Homo sapiens: one gene and its partners. The protein of the gene in region 3 purifies or fractionates together with the protein of the main gene of each other region. This does not show direct contact. Each region holds a gene or a part of one and is shown on either strand. Other genes may lie near its edges.

What was found. Proteins that work in one complex are often made in the same cells at the same time.
Region 1: the proteins of MTA3 (region 3) and HJURP purify together in Homo sapiens (affinity purification with mass spectrometry, with the first as the bait; one large-scale study listed by BioGRID). This does not show direct contact.
Region 2: the proteins of MTA3 (region 3) and MYBL2 purify together in Homo sapiens (affinity purification with mass spectrometry, with the first as the bait; one large-scale study listed by BioGRID). This does not show direct contact.
Region 4: the proteins of MTA3 (region 3) and ARID4B purify together in Homo sapiens (affinity purification with mass spectrometry, with the first as the bait; one large-scale study listed by BioGRID). This does not show direct contact.

Annotation. Positions count from the first base shown.
Region 1 is NC_000002.12:233,846,989-233,852,186, forward strand, and holds part of HJURP (Holliday junction recognition protein), read right to left. Parts: exon of another isoform or gene 2,872-5,198; coding exon 2,775-2,871; intron 474-2,774; coding exon 409-473; intron 1-408. UniProt on the Homo sapiens protein: Centromeric protein that plays a central role in the incorporation and maintenance of histone H3-like variant CENPA at centromeres.
Region 2 is NC_000020.11:43,704,463-43,709,660, forward strand, and holds part of MYBL2 (myb-related protein B), read left to right. Parts: intron 1-756; coding exon 757-896; intron 897-5,198. UniProt on the Homo sapiens protein: Transcription factor involved in the regulation of cell survival, proliferation, and differentiation. Transactivates the expression of the CLU gene.
Region 3 is NC_000002.12:42,703,962-42,709,159, forward strand, and holds part of MTA3 (metastasis-associated protein MTA3), read left to right. Parts: intron 1-232; coding exon 233-357; intron 358-3,941; coding exon 3,942-4,093; intron 4,094-4,912; coding exon 4,913-5,135; coding exon of another isoform or gene 5,136-5,158; exon of another isoform or gene 5,159-5,198. UniProt on the Homo sapiens protein: Acts as a component of the histone deacetylase NuRD complex which participates in the remodeling of chromatin.
Region 4 is NC_000001.11:235,320,633-235,325,830, reverse strand, and holds part of ARID4B (AT-rich interactive domain-containing protein 4B), read left to right. Parts: intron 1-5,198. UniProt on the Homo sapiens protein: Acts as a transcriptional repressor. May function in the assembly and/or enzymatic activity of the Sin3A corepressor complex or in mediating interactions between the complex and other regulatory complexes.

The DNA.
Region 1 (5,198 bases), about 190 Mb from region 3:
GCATTTGAGGACAGACCTGGAAATACTCCCTAGAACACCTCTCTTTTTACCCTGCCCCTGTAGGGGAGACTGACCGAGAGCCCAGCTTTCCTGTCGTGTGCTCATCCAGGCAGATGGCGCCCTGCCAACCACACTGACAGCTTTATCTGCAGAGTGAAAATCATCGTGAATCAGGCTTGCACTGGGGGTAGAACTGGCTGCCAGGTGCTAGACTGAGAGGAGGGCCTTACCGCTGAAGGGAATCGACACGAGGAAATCCGAGACTTGGAAGTAGCAAAAGCCAGCCTCAGGAGAGGACTTCCAGAAAAGTGCAGGCAGCGCTGCCCGCCTCAGGCCACATGGGCTTTGATGGACCCCTGAGCCCCCAAGCGCCCCCTCTGTCCATTCATTACTAAAGGCAGCACTTACTGCTAAGGCCCAAGCAACTGACTCTTCCTGGTCTGACGTGGCATCGACCTCACCGCTTTTTGAATCTAAAAGTCAAACAAGTAAATCTCAATCAGGATTTTCAGGAAGGAGTGCATTTTCCTCTCAAGGATGGTTTTGGCATCACTTCGAGTAAGTTGTACAGTAAAAATCCCCATTGCTTCAAGGGTGCACCCACTGGAGCCATCTACGGCTGCCCGTGGTTCTTAGTAACCCAGAGAACCCCTAGAATGGGAAACTGCCTGGGGCCATGGAGTGAGGAAAGGCAGATTCTGCACCACCTCCAGCTTTCCATGGCCTCTGAGCCTGGAAGTTGAGACGCTCAAGCCCAGCACTGCTCGACAGAACTTCCGGTGACCATGGAAAGTTCTCTGCCTGCTGTCCTAGGCCAGCCACTAGCCACACCGGGCTACTGAACAGCTGGGATGTGGCCAGTAAGGCTGAGGAAATGGATTTTAAATTTTATTTCACTTTCAACTAATTTAAATATCATCCAGAGAGGGCTGGTGGGTGCCATACTGGGCAGTACATCTATCAAATAACTATTTCCTGTGATTTCAAGCGGTTGGGGAAATTCATGGACCTAAGGATTTATAGTTAAAATCTGGATTAATAGCAGTAAACACATAGCACCACAGGTAAATATCCTCATGAAGAGCTTTCCAATTCTACTCTGAAAGACCACCAGCTTCCCTTTAGCGACTCAACACCCATCACTAACTATTGGTGTAGGCAAGGTGCCAGGAAAGGGACTGGGCAGAGGGGGACAGAGGCTGCGGAAGGCCAGTGTCCAGGAGAGACAGGTGTTTAAAGGCTAGTGACAAAACTGTTTCGCAAGCAGAGGAACCCAGGTCTAAAGAGCTCAGATAAGAGTGGGGGTCTGTTCCAGCCTGGGGATCACAGGGGCTTCCCGGGGGCAGCAAGGAGGCCATGCGGTCAGGCAGGACTTCAGGCCCCATTCTGGGTTCTGGCCTTTTACCCCAAAAGCAATGGGAAGCCACGTGTTGCATCAGAGAAGCGGCTTGACCACATTCACAGGGGCGTCAGTGGGGCGGAGGGAGCCCGGGTGGGGTTGGAGGCTGGTGCTCAGCGGGGACATGAGAGCTAACGAAGCACAAGGCACAGGACAGGGATGCCTTGGCCATGAGGAATGAGGCAGAGGCTGAGATGAAGATCCTGGGTTTCTGGCTAACGCTAGAGGGAAGACGGCAGGGGCCTGTACTGAGGCGCAGAGCAGAAGATGGGGAGCCTGTCTGTCGGGCTGAGTCTTAGCTGTGCCAAGTCTGGACATGAAGTATTGAAGCAGAGGGGCTGCTGGGCAGTAAAACGCCCCCAGTTGAGTTCTGGCTGGAGGTTACAGTCAGCACACAGAGAAGCCATGGCTCCACCTGGGGGAAGGGCAAAGGCAGCTCAAACAAACCCTCTAGAAAGGGCATCCAGCAGGGACGGGAGGCGAGCAGACTGCAGGCTTGGAAGGACGAAGACAGAAGGAGGAAAACTGGAGGAGCATGGGGCCGAGGAGCAGGGGGCCACAGAGGCCCAGGCCAGAACTTCTGGAAGGTTTAAATGCAATGGAGAGCGCAAAACCCAAAGAATAAAACCCAAAGAATGCTAACAGGATTTAGCAATGGGGTTGTGAGAAACCTCACCCAGAGTTGGGCTTTAGAGATGGAGCCGAAAGGAGTCGGGAGAGGAGGAACACACGGGGTTGGTGGGGTAGGGAATCCATGGCACCAAACGGAGCAGGTTATTTCACTCTGGTGGTAAAGGGAACTGGGCAAAGGGATGTGGCAAGGAAGGGGCCCAGGACAGGGGAGAGCCACGAAGGGTCTGATGTATCTAACGTGAGTCTGAGCGCATCTAAATACCGACGGATGGATCCAGGGGACAGAGACTGAAGACAGAAGGAAGGGGTGAGGGACAGATTCCCTAGAAAAGAGGACAGGATGGGGGTGGGCAGTGAGACTGGCCTGGGGAAAAGGAAGGAGCCTCCTAGGAGGACGAAGTGGGAAGCTGCCCTATAGAAGTGAGGGTTCACAACACCACCCTGTAGGGGCAAATCTTAAGTCTTACTAAATCTGGATATTAACTTTTCACATGGAGGGGCATGTTTATTTACTCAAAAAACACCTGAGTACCATTCATATGTCAGGCACCGGATGTAACTGTGGGCAAGGCAGAGCTCAGAAGGAATCAACAGGGTACTTTAACATGATTTTAGTTTTTAAGATATACCTTAGAAAAAATAAAAACTTCACTACTGAGGAATCTAGGCTTTAAGCTGTTGTAACAGGTGCGTCAGACCTGGTCCCTCCTGACTTCAGTTCTCTGACGAAGGCAACACTCACCGGCTCCCAGGACTGTGCGGTGCGAGGGAAGCTCAGGACCCCAGGCTGCAGCTTGCACGGAGCCATCTGTCCTGTCCGCGGGCTTCATGGAGGAGTCCTCCAAGTGCAGAAGCCAATAAAAACATGGTTGTTTGAGTGACAGCACATTTCAAAGTCACCGCAAAATAATAAAACTGCAATCCTTCTGTTAACACAGGAGACAGCAAGAGCCTGCCACAAGGCTTCTCTTCTCCCTGCATGTCCACTTTATAAGAGGCCTCAAGAGCGTAGGAAGGAGCTGAGGCTCCCCTGGGTTGCAGCGGGGGCTGCTACTTAAAAAGCCACTTGGAAGGAGCAGGGAAAGTCAGGGGCCCAGGCACGAGCAGATAAGCTCACACCTCCTAACAGTGGCCCAGGGATGACAGGGACTGGGGCAAACAAAAAGCCAAATTGAAACAGAACAAAATTGTCCTGAGGTCATCAGCGAGAACAGAGAAATAGGCAAGTGGCCCCTGGGCAACTTCCTGTGATCTTTAAAGAATATGCTGGAGTATTTAAGGCGGGGAGGAGCCAGTTTAAGCCCAAGCTAACGCACAGAGGCAGCTGCTTGTCCTGACCAGGAGCTCATACCTGGTGGGCAGAGGTGGTCGGGCGGCCACACTCCTGGTCAGGCCTGCTTCAGCTCTCCAGAGCCTGCTCTATAGCAGGCCCCACGAATAATCCCAGAGCATGGCATCGGTGGGTTCTCAGTAATGAAATTCAAGCATTCAGGATACCAGATTGGCTGAAATATTAATATTTTAGGAACCACCCAGCCTTATAAAAACAGGGCGTGAGAAGGTGGCGAGGCCTATACCGTTAGGGATGGTCCTCAGGTGTCAACTCTGAGGGTTCAGAGGACTTGGGGCTACCCAGGAGCACTACAGGGTAACTGAAGCCCACTTCCAGAATATCAGAACCTTTGCTTCCAGTGAAACCGTCACGTAAGGTGGAGTTTACAGGGTTGTTTTGTGGCTGTGTCTGAGGCAGAACCTGGTTTGAGAATCACAGAGAAGCAGACGATCTACACCAACCCCAAACTATGTGGTAGCTCTGGTAGCTACAAACAGAACCCAGGCATTGTGTTATAACCAACCCAGCACAGGTCAACACCCGGCCTGCCAGGGCCCACAGCCTCCCCCAGCCTCCAGGGCGGCAGGAGCACCAAGTCGTCTGGGAAAAGGTGAAGGCGGATCTGGACACTGTCACCAATAGCAATTACAGTGAAGTCAGAGATGTCCCCGCTGAAATCTCAGGCTACGCCCAGTTTCCTAATCCCAAGAAAGGGTCTGAAGATTCTGGAGACCCAGGTAGGGTTCCTCCTACATTTTAAGCAAAAACCTTAAATAAATCTTTAAATGAAAACTTTTTGCTACCAGGACCATATTAAGCACTGGTCTAATGAGTGGACATCTGTATTATGCATAATTCAAAGAGTATATATACTTTAACCCGATAATCCCACTTCTCAGCATTTATCGAAAAGGGGGACTATCAGTATTGGGAAGAGACAAGGACCGGGATTTTCTCTGAAAACCATTTCTAACAGAGGCTTTATAAATAAAGTTTTATTGGAACACTGCCACGTACACTCATTTACATATTATTTTCGGCCACTTTCCTCCTGCAACACAGAGCTGAGTAGTTACAACAGAGACCATAGAGCCAGCAAAGCCTAAAATATGTATCATCCGGCCCTTTGTGGAAAAAGTGTGCTGACCCTTATTTATTAATAAAGGAAGCCACAAATAGCTAATTGCCTATCAACAGGAGAGCAGTTAAAAAAACATGATTTTTTAAATAATTATATAATTTTATAATTATACAACAGTTGATGAAGAGAAGAGTTTGCCAGATGTATTAACCGGAAAAGTGAGGGAGAAAAAAATGCATTTATAAAGATATGTATTATAGGGAATCACATTGTACTAAAATAGCATTAGTGACCATCTTTGCAGAGAGGAATCAGCTCATTTATGTAGTTGTATGTACTTTTAACATTTTTATGACTAGAATAATTAATCAAGAAGATTTGATTTCAAATTTGCTGTTAATATCGTCACATTGATCTTGATGTTTTTCATTCTTTCATACAGGTTCCTTGACCTGTGACCACAGAGAGGAACCATGTGGCATCTGAGAGGCAGTGATTAACTGAATACCAGATAACCTGGCAAAAGCCACTGTGGCAAAAGGGCTCCTGGATGCCCCCGTAGAAAGGCCAACAGCACCTTCCACTAAAATAACGGGTCTCAGAGCGACAACACCCTCGGATCAACTAGGCAGGGAAGCCAGGGTCTTCCGAAGGTAGAAAAATGCAGAAGGAAAGATGTGTGATCCTCCAGGCTGCACCTCTCCTCATCTCTCTTCCTCCCCTTTCAAAACAGGAAGAGAGACATTCTTCTT
Region 2 (5,198 bases), on a different chromosome or scaffold from region 3:
AAGGCAGCGGGTCCCTCAGCTACTATTTGGGAAGCTCAGGATGATGGAGCGTGGTCGCTCTACTCCAGAGACCCCATTTAGGGTGGTGACCCTGAGGGTTGCAGATGGCTCTCTATTATAGCACCTTCAGGGCAGGGAGGGAAGAGAGCGGGGTGCTTCAAAGGATGGATGTTGGCTTAGATCTAGATTTCATTCTCACTTCTAGCACTCAGTGCAAGACTCAAAACCTCTCTAAGCGTTGGTTTTCTTATCTGTAAAAGGGGGATAGTAATAGTGCCTATGTCTCAGGATTTGTGGTAACTAATTGAAATTATTTGTGTGAAGTGCTTAGCACTGGCAAGAGAAGGTGCCCTCTAAATGATAACCCCACCGCCACCAGCACACTACAACTGTCACATGCCTTTTGCCTTCACAGGTCAGTTCAGAGCTAGTTTTATTTCTTCTGAGAAGGAGCCACTCTCCCACAGTTGGCTTCCTGTGCCTTAACTGCGTCGTCAGCACTCGAGTAGAGATGGCAAAAGCTAGGATTAGGGTGACGGAAGCCCAGAGGTCTGTGTGAACCTGCTTGGTGGGCTCCTGGCATCGATCTGTCCCAGTCCTTGTTCTCGGGTGTCTGATGGGTCAAGAGGGGACCTCAGTATCAGAGCAGACGTTTTGGGGGAGAGGCTCAAGGATCTCTCCCCATGATCCCCTGAGGTCTCAGGGATACTCATGCAGGTCATCATTTTGTCTTGTTCCCTCTCTCTTCTTTGGCAGTTTCTGAACTTCTGGAACAAACAGGACACATTGGAGCTGGAGAGCCCCTCGCTGACATCCACCCCAGTGTGCAGCCAGAAGGTGGTGGTCACCACACCACTGCACCGGGACAAGACACCCCTGCACCAGAAACATGCTGCGTGAGTGCTGCAGTGCCCCCAACCTTCGCCGTCCTCTCCCTCAGCAACACCAGACCATGGGCCTTGGGACCACTGGTGGAACAGTGGGGAGGGGGCACCCTTGGAATAACACTGAAGACTGTTTTAAGAAAGCCCTCTCCTTTCTGGCCACCACGATTTATCATTTTTATCGATATAGTTTTGGGCTCCACCTTTGCTTTTCCTCATTTGTATTTTTTAATTTGATAGTTTCCTTTTTTGTGATCCTCCTGCCTCAGCCTCCTGAGTAGCTGGGACTCCAGGTGCATGCCACCATGCTCAGCTAATTAAAAAAATATTTATTTATTTATTTATTTATTTATTTATTTATTTATTTATTTTGAGATGGAGTCTTGCTCTGTTGCCCAGGCTGGAGTGCAATGGCGCGATCTTGGCTCACTGCAAGCTCCGCCTCCCAGGTTCATGCCATTCTCCTGCCTCAGCCTCCCGAGTAGCTAGGACTACAGGCATCCGCCACCGCGCTCAGCTAATTTTTTGTATTTTTAGTAGAGACAGGATTTCACCGTATTAGCCAGGATGGTGTCGATCTCCTGACCTCGTGATCCTCCTGCCTCAGCCTCCCAAAATGCTGGGATTACAGGCGTGAGCCACCACACCCGGCTAAAATTTTTTTAAGAGGTGAGGTCTTGCTACTTTATCTGGGCTGGTCTTGAACTGGCCTTAAAGTGATCTTCCTGCCACAGCCTCCCAAAACGCTGGGATTACAGGCGTGAGCTACTGCACCTGGCCCTCATTTGATAATTTTCTGTCTCAGGAATGGAGAGTCCAAATTAGCCTGAAAAACATAATCTCTTCCGCTTCCTAAGGTTTCAGGTGCAAATTCGTTGTGTTTGAGCAGCCTTATGTGCAGGGCGAAAGTGCCCATCCCTCTATCAAGAGTGGAGACTGCATTCCTGTCCTCTGAGCTTACGGAGCATGACATTTTCTGTCTGGAAGCCTGTACAGGTTGCTCGCCAGCCTGCTTTTACAATGGAAGTGCTTTTACAATAAGTTTACTTCCTTGGGTCATCATGATTCTAAATTCCAGGTAGAGAGAGTTGCTTAACTATTCCTCTGCTTGATACATTTGCTGGAGGAGGAAATCGCTATTTTGTGATTCAGAAATCAGCTCAGGAATTTTAGCCCTGATAGTGATACATAATTTCGGGAAAAGATTTGTGAATCCCTTAGTCAGAAATCAGTCTCCAAAGTCCGGCTCAGTGGCTCACACTTGTAATCCCAGCGCTTGGGAGGCCAAGGTGGGAGGATCACTTGAGACTAGGGGTTTAAGACCAGTCTGGGCAATATAGGGAGACCCTGTCTGTACACAAAAAAAAAAAAAGTTTTTTTTTTTTTTGAGATGGAGTCTTGCTTTATCACCCAGGCTGGAGTGCAGTGGTGCAATCTCGGCTCACTGCAACCTCCGCCTCCCGGGTTCAAGCAGTTCTCCTGCCTCAGCCTCCTGAGTAGCTGGGATTACAGGCACGCGCCACCACACCCAGCTAATTTTTGTATTTTTAGTAGAAACGAGGTTTCACCGTGTTGGTCAGGCTGGTCTCAAACTCCTGACCTTGTGATCCACTCGCCTCGGCTTCCCAAAGTGCTGGGATTATATGTGTGAGCCACTGCTCCCAGCCAAAAAAAATTTTTTTAATTAGCTGGGCGTGGCCGTGTGTGCCTGTAGTCCCAGCTACTCGGGAGGCTGAAGTGGGAGGATTGCTTGAGCCCAGGAGTTTGAAGCTGCAGTGAGCTATGATTGGCTACTGCACTCCAGCCTAGGTGACAAAGCGTGACTCTCTTTCTAGTTTTTTTTTTTTTTAAAAAAAAAAGAGAAAAAAGAAATCAGTCTCTAAAGAGTTGATCTAAAGCATAACTTAGATAGGTTTCGTGAGAAATGATTGTCCGTTCAAACCAGAATCTTGGACTTCGCATCTAAGCCCTTAAACAGAGATGCTGTCACTACAAAAGGCATTGATACTTCTCTCTCTCCCTTTCTTTCTTATCCATGTGGCCTCATTTGCTGCCTCCTTCCAATTCCTTTTTTCCATAGGAAGAAGCATCTCCAGTGCTCTTCATTCCTCTTTAGATCCATATTTCCATCTGGTTCCTTCTGAAGGCCATCCTTTAACCATGTAGTGTGGGCTTGCTGGTGATGAGTTCTAATTTTTATATTTTTTTGCTAATTTTTCTATTTTTTTGTAGAGATGGGGTTTCGCCATATTGGCCAGGCTGGTCTCGAACTCCTGACTCAAATGGCCTGCCTCGGCCTCCCAAAGTGCTGGGATTACAGGCGTGAGCTGTAATCCAGCTGTTATTCCTTTGTAGAGAGTCTCTTTAGTTATCCCTCAAATTTGACAGGCTGTATGGTGGTGTGGTATTTCTCTATTTTTTTCCCCCCCGGCTTTCATATCAGACTAAAGATTCAAACCTTGAGCTGAGGAAGTGTTTATTTCTTTAGTTTTTCTTTCCCTGTCTGCCCCTTCTCCTACCTTAGGAATTCCTTCATATATAGGCTGGATTGGTCTCTGTGTCTTTTTCGTCTTCATACGCCTCTTCACCATCTTAAGCCATTTCCTTAATCTTCGGAGAACATGATGGGATTGTTTTCTGATTCACCAGTTTGGTTGTCTGTGGTTTCCAACTTGCTGAATTCTCTGATTTACAGAGCTGCATTTTTTATCTCCAAGCAATCTTTTGAATTCCCTTTTCAAGTCAGCCTCCCTGCCTCCCTGAGTTTTCTTTTTGAGACAGTCTTGCTCTGTCCCCAAGGTTGAATACAGTGGTGTGATCATGGCCCACTGCAACTTCTACCTCCCAGGATCAAGTGATCCTCCCACCTCAGCCTTCTAACTAGCTGAGAACACAGGTGTGCACCACCATGCTTGGCTAATTTTTTTGTTTTTTTGAGAGACAGGGTCTCACTGTGTTGCCCAGGCTAGTCTTGAACTCTGGGACTCAAGCAATCCTTCCGCCTCAGCCTCCTAAAGTGCTGGCATTACAGGGGTGAGCCACAAGGCCCGGCCTCTCCCTGAGTTTTCTAATGTGTGTATATACACTCTTTTTTTTCTTTTTTCCGAGACAAGGTCTCTCTTAGTCACCCGGGTTGGAGTGCAGTGGTGCAATCATGGCTCACTGCAGCCTTGAATTCTGGGCTCAAGTGGTCCTCCTACCATAGCCTCTGGAGTAGTTGGGACTACAAGCACCACCATGGCTGGCTGATTTTTTTATTTTTAGTAGTGATGGAGTCTGTGTTACCCAGACTGTTCTTTAACTCCTGGCCTCAAGTGATCCTCTCCTGTCAGCCTAACACTAATCCCAGAGTGTTAGGATTACAGGCGTGAACCACTGCCTTTGGCCATGTGTGTGCTCTTAGTCCTTGTTGATGCCACGAATTAGAGAGGTTCTGGAATTTTCTCATGTTCCTCAGAAACTCCATGTCCCATGGAGATGCTTGAGTGGCTCAGATTCACCTCTGTGAATTGTGGTTTGAACTGTAAGATGTGTACATTTGACTTGTGCTTATCTGTCTTCACTCTTCCTTACAGAGGGGGATCTCTGTGTGTCCCAGATGGGGGATAACAAGGGTTTGGGAAGAGACTGTGGATCCCTGCCTAATCTCTAGGTCCTGAGGAAGGAAGAAAAGAATGGTCTGCATTTGTTCTAGTTTTTTATCTCCCCATGGAGTGGCTGGCCAGCTGCGGGAAGTGGAGGCGGCGAGGCCCCAGGCTGCTGTTTCTAGGAGTTGGCCTCATCACCCAGGTCCCTGGCTACCTGGGGTGTTTCTCTCATCCTCTGAGTGCCCTGGTTATGCCATGAGAGTCAGCCATGGTGGTATCTCCAGGTGACTAAGGTCACATACCAGCACACAAGGGTTCGTGTTTGTGGAACCTGGTAGCTTCCTTCAGAGCTGACATTTGCCCACAGCCAGCCTGGCCCAGCCCCATACCACCAGCCCTGGCGCTCTGGGGCGTGAGGTGCCTTTTCTGCCCCCCTGCTCTAGGGCAGGTGGAAATCACCCATGGTGGGTCTACATCTGATAGAAGCATCTTATAGTTCTGCTTCTGGACCAGACCATCCTGGGTTTTTCTCTGTTCTGCTGAAGGGTTCCCTCCACGTGTCCATCACCTCGGTGAACTCTTGGGAGACCTGGGAAGATGCTGGCCTCACCTCTCGCCCCTCCTTTCCCTCATTGTGCTGCCACCATCCTTCTCACACAGGCTCTCCAGGGAGAGCTGGGCAGGATGGGATCTTCCTGGGTTCCCACCTTGCTCCGTGCCCCCTCTC
Region 3 (5,198 bases):
TTTACTTCGTGAATGTCAGGCATAAGCAATTCCTTTTTTCATAGACTCGTTTTATAAAGATGAGTAGTGTGAGTTCATTTAACACCTTGGTTTTACCAGTTTATTTCTTCTTCACACATTTTAAAATGTTTGTTTATGTTTATTAAATAGTGACGGTAAATCAGTAATGATATAGAGCTTTTTGCCTTATTGTACAAATCATTTTATCACCTTATTTTAATTTCATTGAAAGCAGCAAACCAAATCCCAACCAAATATCCACTAGTAATGGGAAGCCTGGTGCTGTGAATGGAGCTGTGGGGACCACGTTCCAGCCTCAGAATCCTCTCTTAGGGAGAGCCTGTGAGAGCTGCTATGGTAAGTTTTCTCTAGCAGGTCAGTTAAGCATCGGGAACTGTTCTGGCTCATGGGGTGTGAGCGTCTGGGAAGTGCCTGAGGTCAGTACGGTGCACCTTGGAAGGCACAAGCATGTCTCCTCTAAATGAGTAGATGCCCCTCCTTACCTTCTGCCTGGAACAGAGGGACTGTTTATTGAATCCTTATTACGTACCACACACTCAAGTTAGGCATTGGATTTCCCTTGATGTACTCTTGTGGTTTGTTGATTATTTCATAGCAGTGTTTGCTGAGTTGTGTTTAGAGTCATATTAGCTTTGCAGAAACTGTGTTCCCATGATGCATACCAAATTCCCCTTTGGAGTTTCTCAGTATACTTTGACAAATTAAAGCTCCAAGTAATTCTGTAGGAAAGGCCTCTGTGTGGATAAGCTGCTGTATATAATCCTCAGACCATGTTCCCTCAGTGCACCAGTTTGGGAAATGCTCTTCTATGATACTTGCTTTTGGCCTCAGGATCCCACTGTATTTATCTATGGTGGCAGTATTTTATTTGCCCAGGGTGTTAAATGGGGTCGGTGAAGTGAACCGTTAGGTAGTTGATAGACTTTGTGTGTTTATTTTAAATCTCAAGCAAGGATACAATATCTTAATGGGGCATTGGTGATATTATCATCTATGTTTCCTTCCAGTTAAGGTAGCCTGGGATGGGAGAGGGAAGGAAACGAATGTTTATTGAAAACCTACTTGGTGCCCCATTTTGGGTTCTTAGTAGCTCTTTGAGAGTACATGTAGCCTACTGCCTTCAGGAAGGATATAGGAATGAGGGACGGCTGTGAGTACGATTACGTCGATTGATCCCAAGGAAGGTGTGAGCCAAGTTGCTGAATTTGTAGAAATGGTACATGGGGATGTGTTTAACCATTTTTTTGCAGCATGGGAGCACAAAGGGAAACAATTTGTGGAAAATTAAGATTTTTTAGGTCAGGCTTTTACATGGATAGCATCATAAATACCTTGAATTGGGAATTCTTGGATTTTGTAGTTCATGTATATTCAAATGAAAATGAAAAGAATCCTGCAGACAAGTGGTAGTGGCTTAACCTGTCTTGATTTTAACTTGCAGGCAGGGTGCTGTGGCTCATGCCTGTAATCCCAGCACTTTGGGAGGCTGAGGCGGGTGAATCACCTGAGGTCAGGAGTTCGAGACCAGCCTGGCCAACATGGTGAAACCCCGTCTCTACTAAAAATACCAAAAATTAGCCAGGCATGGTGGCATGCACCTGTAATCCCAGCTACTCAGGAGGCTGAGGCAGGAGAATAGCTTGAACCCAGGAGGCAGAGGTTGCAGTGAGCTGAGATTGCACCATTGCACTCCAACCTGGGTGACAGAGTGAAACATCGTCTCCCCCCCGCCCCCAAAAAAAAAATTAACTTGCAAACCCCTTTCACACTCACGTATATCCCCTTAAATGATTATTCTGTTATTTTTATGTGTGCATGATGAATAAGCTATTTTTATTTTATAATATTTACTTTAGACTCATGTATTACTAATCTCCATGATAAAATGTTATCTTAATATAAGATTTATCCTTACAGAGAGATAGAACTTGATGTTTTCTATTTATTAAATGATACCTACTTTCCAATTGAATTTGAGTTATTTAAGGAGAAAGGCATTTATTGACAATTATTAAAATGATTTGCATGATTAGTTTACGTAAAATGTATGTTTTAAGTGAAATTTTATATTTAGAATTCAAAATAGATTCATAGCTTAATGTTTAAGATTTTGAAGGGGAACATCACATCTGGGGACTGCTGTGGGGTGGGGGGAGCAGGGAGGGATAGCTTTAGGAGATATACCTAATGCTAAATGACGAGTTAATGGGTGCAGCACCCCAGCATGGCACATGTATACATATGTAACTAACCTGCACATTGTGCACATGTACCCTAAAACTTAAGGTATAATAATAATAAAATAAAAAATTTAAAAAATGACTTATTAGTTCTAAATTATAGGAGGAAAGGCTTTTAGGCTTTCATTTGTATAAAATAGTTATTTGTATAAATGAAAGCCTAAAATAGGCCTAAAATATTTACACAAATAAAAGCCTAAAATAATAATCCTCCAAAAATAATACATGATGGGTGTACAGTGTTATTCCCGATAAACATGAATATAATGGTCTCTGTATTTTCTCTTTTTCACATTGGTTTGTGAAGTGTTAGTTGATATCTTCATGTGCTGTTTGAACATTTGAAGGTAACTTACAGGTCAGAGAAATAATATTTTAAGGCAAACTTACAGAATTACAATTTTTTATGCACCCAATTAACTTATGTCTCAACCTCAATGTTTTCTCTTAAACTTCAGATCTATCACACATGTATTTTAAATGTCACATGTCAGTAATTTAAACTACAAAACAAAAACTAACACAAGCTTACAGTGTTCAGCTAGCTGTTAAATCATCTGAGTTTTAGGCCTCAAGCATGCTGTGATGTCAGCTGCCCATGCTCACTTCATATGGATTTAGAGTCTTGAAAGGGATTCTGTCTGTAAATGGAGATTTTAAAATAAGGATTTTACTTATTGATTAAAATAAAGGAGTGCAAAACAGATACCTGTTTGTTTCTTCTCTCCTCCCCTACTCCCTCCCTCTTCCCCTCCCCAGCCCCCTCCTCCTCCCCGCTTCCCTCTGTAACCCAGGCTGGAATGCAGTGGTGCAATCACAGTGGCCTCAACCTCCCAGGCTCAAGCAGTCCTGCTGCCTCAGTCTCTGTAGTCGCTGGGACTACAGGGGTTCACCACCACACCTGGCTGACAGATACCTGTTTTTATTAGATTCCTGACTTTATCAATGAGACCTCCCTGAGTACCTTAAATAATCCTTGGAGTGGTGTCTGAACCCTGGGTTTGGAAACGTGGATTTAGATTTTTTTTTTTTTTCTTTTGAGATGGAGCCTCACTCTGTCGCCCAGGCTGGAGTGCAGTGGCGTGATCTCAGCTCACTGTAACCTCTGCCTCCCACATTCAAGCAATTCTACTGCCTCAGCCTACCGAGTAGCTAGGACTACAGGTGCGTGCCACCATGCCTGGCTAATTTTTTTTGTGTGTTTTCAGTAGAGACGGGGTTTCACCGTGTTAGCCAGGATGGTCTTGATCTCCTGACCTCATGGTCCGCCTGCCTCAACCTCCCAAAGTGCTGGGATTACAGGCGTGAGCCACCATGTCCGGCCCCAGATTTTTTAAATACTACCATCTTTTTGAGAACCTATTTCCAGAAACATACACAATAGAGTATTTTTAATCAACAAAACAAAAACTCCCTCAGCAGCACAATGCATAATACAGGATGCTTCACTGAATAGCTTTAACAGGGCCACAAGCACTTTATATAATAATGGAAATAAGTTGGTTTAATGAATTCTGAGTATTAAAAAAACAAATATACTATTATGTTTGGCTTGTAAGCTGGGAACAATAACATTGTAAACTAAGCATGACAAGTATTTTTAAAATGTTTGATTATTTTGTGTTGATGTTACAAATTAAATAGCATTTTTCGTTTTTTCTTATTTTTCTTCTGCTTTAGCTACACAGTCTCACCAGTGGTATTCTTGGGGCCCACCTAATATGCAGTGTAGATTATGTGCAATTTGTTGGCTTTATTGGAAAAAATATGGAGGCTTGAAAATGCCCACCCAGTCAGAAGAAGAGAAGTTATCTCCTAGCCCAACTACAGAGGTACAGTAGTCTTTTTAGTGTTGAAAAATGGCATGTTTTTAAATGGGTTGATTATTCCTTGGAAACAGAAGTACAGTATAGGATAATTAAAAAATGAAGAAAGCTACCTTTATAGCTAAACGTAGCACTACAATATTCAGGGTAGGTGTGGAGAGAAGCAGAGAGAAATTAAATTTTATCAGGTATTCAGAATAATGGTCTCAGACAAAAAAACAATGAGTGTGGGAGATGTTAGCATAAGTAGAGAGCTTACAAATTAAATGTTTAATTGCTTTTGAAAACAGTTCGTAACCTTTACATTCTGTTGAAGGCGTGTCTTACTACATAAAGTCATAAATGCAAATTAAGCATTTTTTCTCCCCGTGGCTGTTTTGGAGGGACAAGAAGTATGGACTTAATCTTGAGGTGAACAACAGTTTAAATGTGATTTTGGTAAAATCCTCATAGGCTGAAGATGCCAAACGCCTGTGTTTACCAGTGGGCGACTACCCTTTTTCAGTGCTGACGGGCTTTCAGGACTCCTTAATTTAAAAAAAAGTGTAGTTAACCCCCTTGGCAGTTTCATACCACTTACTGTGAATGTGATTTTGGATTCCTGTATAGCAGTACAGTATTCTCCACAGTTCCCTTCTCTACTCCCCACCTCTTTCCCAAAAGTGCACACTTTAATTCTCTCTTTTAGAGGTAGTGCACCAAGTGACGTTATAGATGCTTCATGAAAGATTTAAAAGTTGCACTTTTCTTTTGAGCATGATGCAAACAGTAACGTGTTTGGGCAAGTTCACTTCCTTGAGTGTTTGTTGTTTTCTGATTTTGCAGGACCCTCGTGTTAGAAGTCACGTGTCCCGCCAGGCCATGCAGGGAATGCCAGTCCGAAACACTGGGAGTCCAAAGTCTGCAGTGAAGACCCGCCAAGCTTTCTTCCTTCATACTACATATTTCACAAAATTTGCTCGTCAGGTCTGCAAAAATACCCTCCGGCTGCGGCAGGCAGCAAGACGGCCGTTTGTTGCTATTAATTATGCTGCCATTAGGGCAGAATGTAAGATGCTTTTAAATTCTTAACCTTATATGTTGTGCTTCTGACCATTTTCTCTTTTCCTCT
Region 4 (5,198 bases), on a different chromosome or scaffold from region 3:
CTACTATACAGAGTAATTAAGTTTAGTCTAATTTTTTTAAGGTTTTCTCTTTGAGTTTGGGATGCTGTAAACTACCTGAAACAGTTTATTCCTATCTCATTTCATGAAGCATAGACATGTTTCAGGAATGAATCCCTTTTGTTAGTCACAAATCCTAGCTATAACTCTCATCACCTGTGTAAAACAGTGGTGAAAGTGCATTTATTAGGTAACTCGTATATGTACCTTGATGTTGGGTGAGAATTTCTTAAGAAAAGTTTTGGTTTGAGTAAGAAATAATAAGTTCAGAAGCCGAATAAATAAAAGGTTTAGTTTGGAGTAAATGTAATGTGTCACATTTCCCAGTGTTGTAGTGCTTGTCACTTCTTAGGTGCTCTATAAATGTTTGGTTAAAAGAAATGTAGTTAAGTTGAAAGTCTGAGATTAAAATGTTTTTTTTCTTCCTTTCGTTTCCTTTTTTTTTTTAAGTAGTCTGTTTAAAAAAATGAAAGTATGTTGGAAACTTTAGCCTTAAAAGTTTCTTGGTAATACTAGCCAAATGCAAATTTTTTGGTATCTTTTTAGAAATACTAATTTTAAGTGCTCAGCATTACATTCTACTGCATTTTTTAAAAAGGTGCTTTTAACGTTAAAAGGAAAAAGTTACTAAAATAAATTTCTAACTTCATACAAGTACTTCCTGTTATTATAAGTATAGCAAATCTCAGAGAATTTGCTAGTAATTATTAGTACTAAAAACTTAGCTTATTTCTTACAACTTTATTTCTTATGTGATAAAAGATGAGAAGCTTCTTGTAATTTGTATTTTGCTTTAGCAAAAATTGCAATTCAGAATCTATTTAATGTTGAGTGTATTAGGCCTAAATTTTGTTTCTTTTTCTGTGTGTTCCCAATTTCTTTCGTTCTTTTTTATTTTTCTTTTTGATATAGAGTCTCACTATTTCACCCTGGCTGGCACGATCTGTAACTGCTGCCTCCTGGGCTCAAATAATCCTCCCACCTCAGCCTCCTGAGTAGCTGGGACTACAGGCACACCTGGCTAATTTTTGTAGTTTTTGTAGAGATGAGGTTTTGCCGTGTTGCCCAGGCTGGTGTCGAACTTCTGGGCTCAGGTGACTCTCCCGCCTTAGCCTCCCAAAGTGCTGGGATTACAGGCGAGAGTCACCGTGCCTGGTGTAATTTCTGTATTACGATGATCATTGAGCTACAGAAGGTTTTATGCCATTTATTGGATCTTACCAAACATATTTGTACTTGGGAGCAAGCTTTTAAGTTTGAATTGTCTGTTGTATTAACGACAACAAATCTTTAAATTTTATTAAGTGACAGTTTATTGAGGTGATTGAAAGTTAGATTATGTAGTAATACTTTTTAGGTGTTGTTTTAAAGTTGAAGTGTTGTATGTTTTAGCAGTTTTCCCATGTACTACCTTTAAGAATTTATGTAAACAAATACATTCCCATTACTGTCTAATATATGCTATGTTACTTTTTTCACAGTATGTTTTTGAGGAATATGATTCGTAATACATAAGGAATTTGTGCTGTAACATAGATCGTGATGTTGGTGTTATGTTGAATTTATTTTTCATGCTCTTGATAGACTTTTAAAAATCAGTGGTGCCGGCTGGGCATGGTGGCTCACGCCTGTAATCACAGCACTTTGGGAGGCCGAGGTAGGAGGATCACCTGAGGTCAAGGGAGTTTGAGACCAGCCTGGCCAGCGTAGTAAAACCCTGTCTCTTCTAAAAATACAAAATTAGCTGGGCATGGTGGCACACACCTGTAATCCCAGCTATTCGGAAGGCTGAGGCAGGAGAACTGCTTGAACCCAGGAGGCGGAGGTTGCAGTGAGCTGAGGTTGCGCCACTGAACTCCAGCCTCGGCGAAAAAAGTGAAACTCTCTCTCTCAAAAAAAAAAAAACTAAATAAAATAAAATAAAAATCAGCAGTACCACATTATAAGGAGGTGGTAGATTATTAAAGTTTGTAAATAATTCCAAGACTTATTTTTATTATGTCAGGTTGATTTTTACTTTTTTTTTTTAAGACGGACTTTTGCTCTTGTTGCCCAGGCCGGAGTGCAGTGGTGCGATCTCGGCTCACTGCAACCTCTGCCTCCCAGGTTCAAGCAGTTCTCCTGCCTCAGCCTCCTGAGTAACTGGAATTATAGGCATGCACCATCATGCCGGGCTAATTTTGTGCTTTTAGTAGAGACAAGGTTTCTCCATATTGGTCAGGCTGGTCTCGAACTCCTGACCTCAGGTGATCTGCCCGCCTCGGCCTCCCAAAGTGCTGGGATTACAGGCGTGAGCCACTGCGCCCGGCCGATTTTTACTTTTTTTAAACTCAAACTTTTTTTTCCTGTATCTATATTGTACATGTTATTAACGTCTTTTATTACGTAGCAGTAAATTTTCAATTAAAATGGGCTGGTTGGGCTGGATATACCAGAATCTTTAGAGGAGGAATGATTTAGATGATTATACTTTGGCGGGCATGGTGGCTCATGCTTGTAATCCCAGTACTTTGGGAGGCTGAGGTGGGTGGATTACTTGAGGTTGGGAGTTCAAGACCAGCCTGGCCAAAGTGATGAAAACCCCGTCTCTACTAAAAGTATAAAAAAATTAGCTGGGCATGGTGGCGCATGCCTGTATTCCCAGCTACTCAGGAGACTGAGGTAGGATCGCTTGAACCTAGGAGGTGGAGGTTGCAGTGAGTCGAGATGGCACCACTGCACTCCAGCTTGGGTGACAGGGAGACCCCATTTCAGGAAAAAAAAAAAAAAAAAGGTGGTTATATTTAGAATCCACGTAGATTGAATTTTCCAGATGTACTTTTCTTTCTTCAACAATGATTGGCTTAGGCCACATGAAAAAATAATGGATTGATTACAAATTCCCTTTTTTAATGCCCTGTGTGTGTGTACATGTTCTCTCTCTCTCTCCCCCTACCTCTACCTTTGTTTGTCTCCCTATCCACTCTGTCAGTTCGTTCCCCCCTCTCTGTTCTTTTCCTTCCCCCTCTTCCTTCTGTCTCACCCCTTTCATAAGTCATTCATTTAACAACAACCCGTTTCATATATCAGGTAATATAGAATGAAGGTGGGTGAGGCATCTGACCTGCTTTCAGGGAGCCCACAGTGTAGCAGAAGATGCAGATAAATAAAGCAAAACTCCTAGCATATCTATTTATGAGTATTCCAACATAAAATAATTGTAGGAAATGCTATGAGAGGACAGAAGAGGACAGCTAAATCAGAGAGCTATGGAAAGTTTTCTGGTGGAGTTGACATCTAAGCTGAGTGCGAAGGCTTTTGCTAGGCAAAGAAGGGAAGAAAAGTTTTTCAGATAGAGGATAACGTACTGGAAAATGAACGAAACAAGGTGAAGTATCTGGAAACTGTAAGTAATTTGGTGTGACTGAATTAACTTAAAGCATGATATGTTTGGGTAGGAATAAAAGGGCAGTGGTGGGAGATGAAGCTGAGTGAGGGAGTCGAAAATTTTCTTGGCCAGGCATGGTGTCTCACACCTGTAATCCCAGCACTTTGGGAGGTTGAGGCAGGTGGATCACCTGAGTTCTATACCAGCCTGGCCAACATGGTGAAACCCTGTTTCTACTAAAAATACAAAATTAGCAGGGCATGGTGGTGTGAGCCTGTAATGCCAGCTATTAGGGAGGCTGAGGCAGAAGAATAGCTTGAACACGGGAGGTGGAGGTTACAGTGAGCCGAGATCATGCCATTGCACTCCAGCCTGGGTGACAAGAGCAATACTCTGTCTCAAAAAAAAAAAAATTTTTTCTTGAAAACTACATGGAACCATTGAAAGTTGTTGAGAATTGCTTGAACCCAGGAGCTGGAGGTTGCGGTGAGCTGAGATCAGGCCACTGCAAAAACAAGGGGAGAGCTGAATGTAAGGATGGAAATTCCAGGTAAGAAGTCCAAGTGGAAAATGAATAAGGGCCTGAACTAATGCATTGGAAGTGGAGCAGAGAGGATAGATCTGAGCCTTTTTGAAGTAGAATTCAGGGCCGGGCACAGTGGCTCACACCTGTAATCCCAGCACTTTGGGAGGCTGAGGTGGGTGGATCATGAGGTCAGGAGATTGAGACCATCCTGGCTAACACAGTGAAACCCCGTCTCTACTAAAAAAATACAAAAAATAGAAATTAGCCAGGCTTGGTAGCGGGCGCCTGTAGGACGCTGAGGCAGGAGAATGGTGCGAACCTGGGAGGCGGAGCTTGCAGTGAGCCGAGATCACGCCACTGCACTCCAGCCTGGGCGACAGAGCAAGAGTCTGTCTTAAAAGAAGTAGAATTCAGGACCTAGTAACTCATCCTGGGGTAGGAAGAAGATGGAGGTTTTTTTCTTAGGAAATTAGATAGATGTTACTGTCATTTGAAGCATGCTGTCATTGGACCTGCTAGTTAAGATGTAAGAGTAAGTAGGTAGGATGAAGTCAGAGGCTTGGTTAATCTGGTGTGAATGTTAACCTCATATCTATGATATTTGAAGGGATTTAAGATCCATAACATGGCAAATTTTGTGCTATAAATTTGTGGTCCTTTAGATGAATAGGTAATCTTGTAAAATACTAACATGTTTTCTGTCCAAATTGCTAAATCTTTGTTTATTGTAATTAAAAAAAATACTAGGTGAGTACCTATGTCACTGAAGAATGTTTTTGCCAAGTCAGCCAGTGAATTCAGTCATTGAACACATTGTGTACTTTCCTTGTACCGGACATTGTTCTGGGTTTTGAGGATGCAGCAGTGAATAGAACAAGAGTTCTTACCCTCGTGGAGTTTACTTTCTACTATGGTGGACACACGTTAAGAAAAAAAATAATGCTAAGTGCTTTGAAGAGAAATGATACGGAATCAGAATAAGAGGTTAGAGTGACAGAGGGTGGGTTACTTTAGATTAGGTGATAATGGAGGGCCTTTTCGAGATGACATTTAAGTGTGCTGTGAAACAAGTGATAGAGTGAGCCATTCAGGTTTCTGGGGGAGGAGCATTCCCTGCAGAAAACAAGTGCAAATACCCTGAGATGGAGTGTGCTTGGCATGTTTGAGTGTGATACATTTAAGGAACATTAAGGCCATCAGGGCTGGAGTGGTAGGAGAGGAGGTCAGAGAGGGTCACAAAGGGCCAGTACAATTGTAGGGCCTTATAGGACATGGTAAGGACTTGAG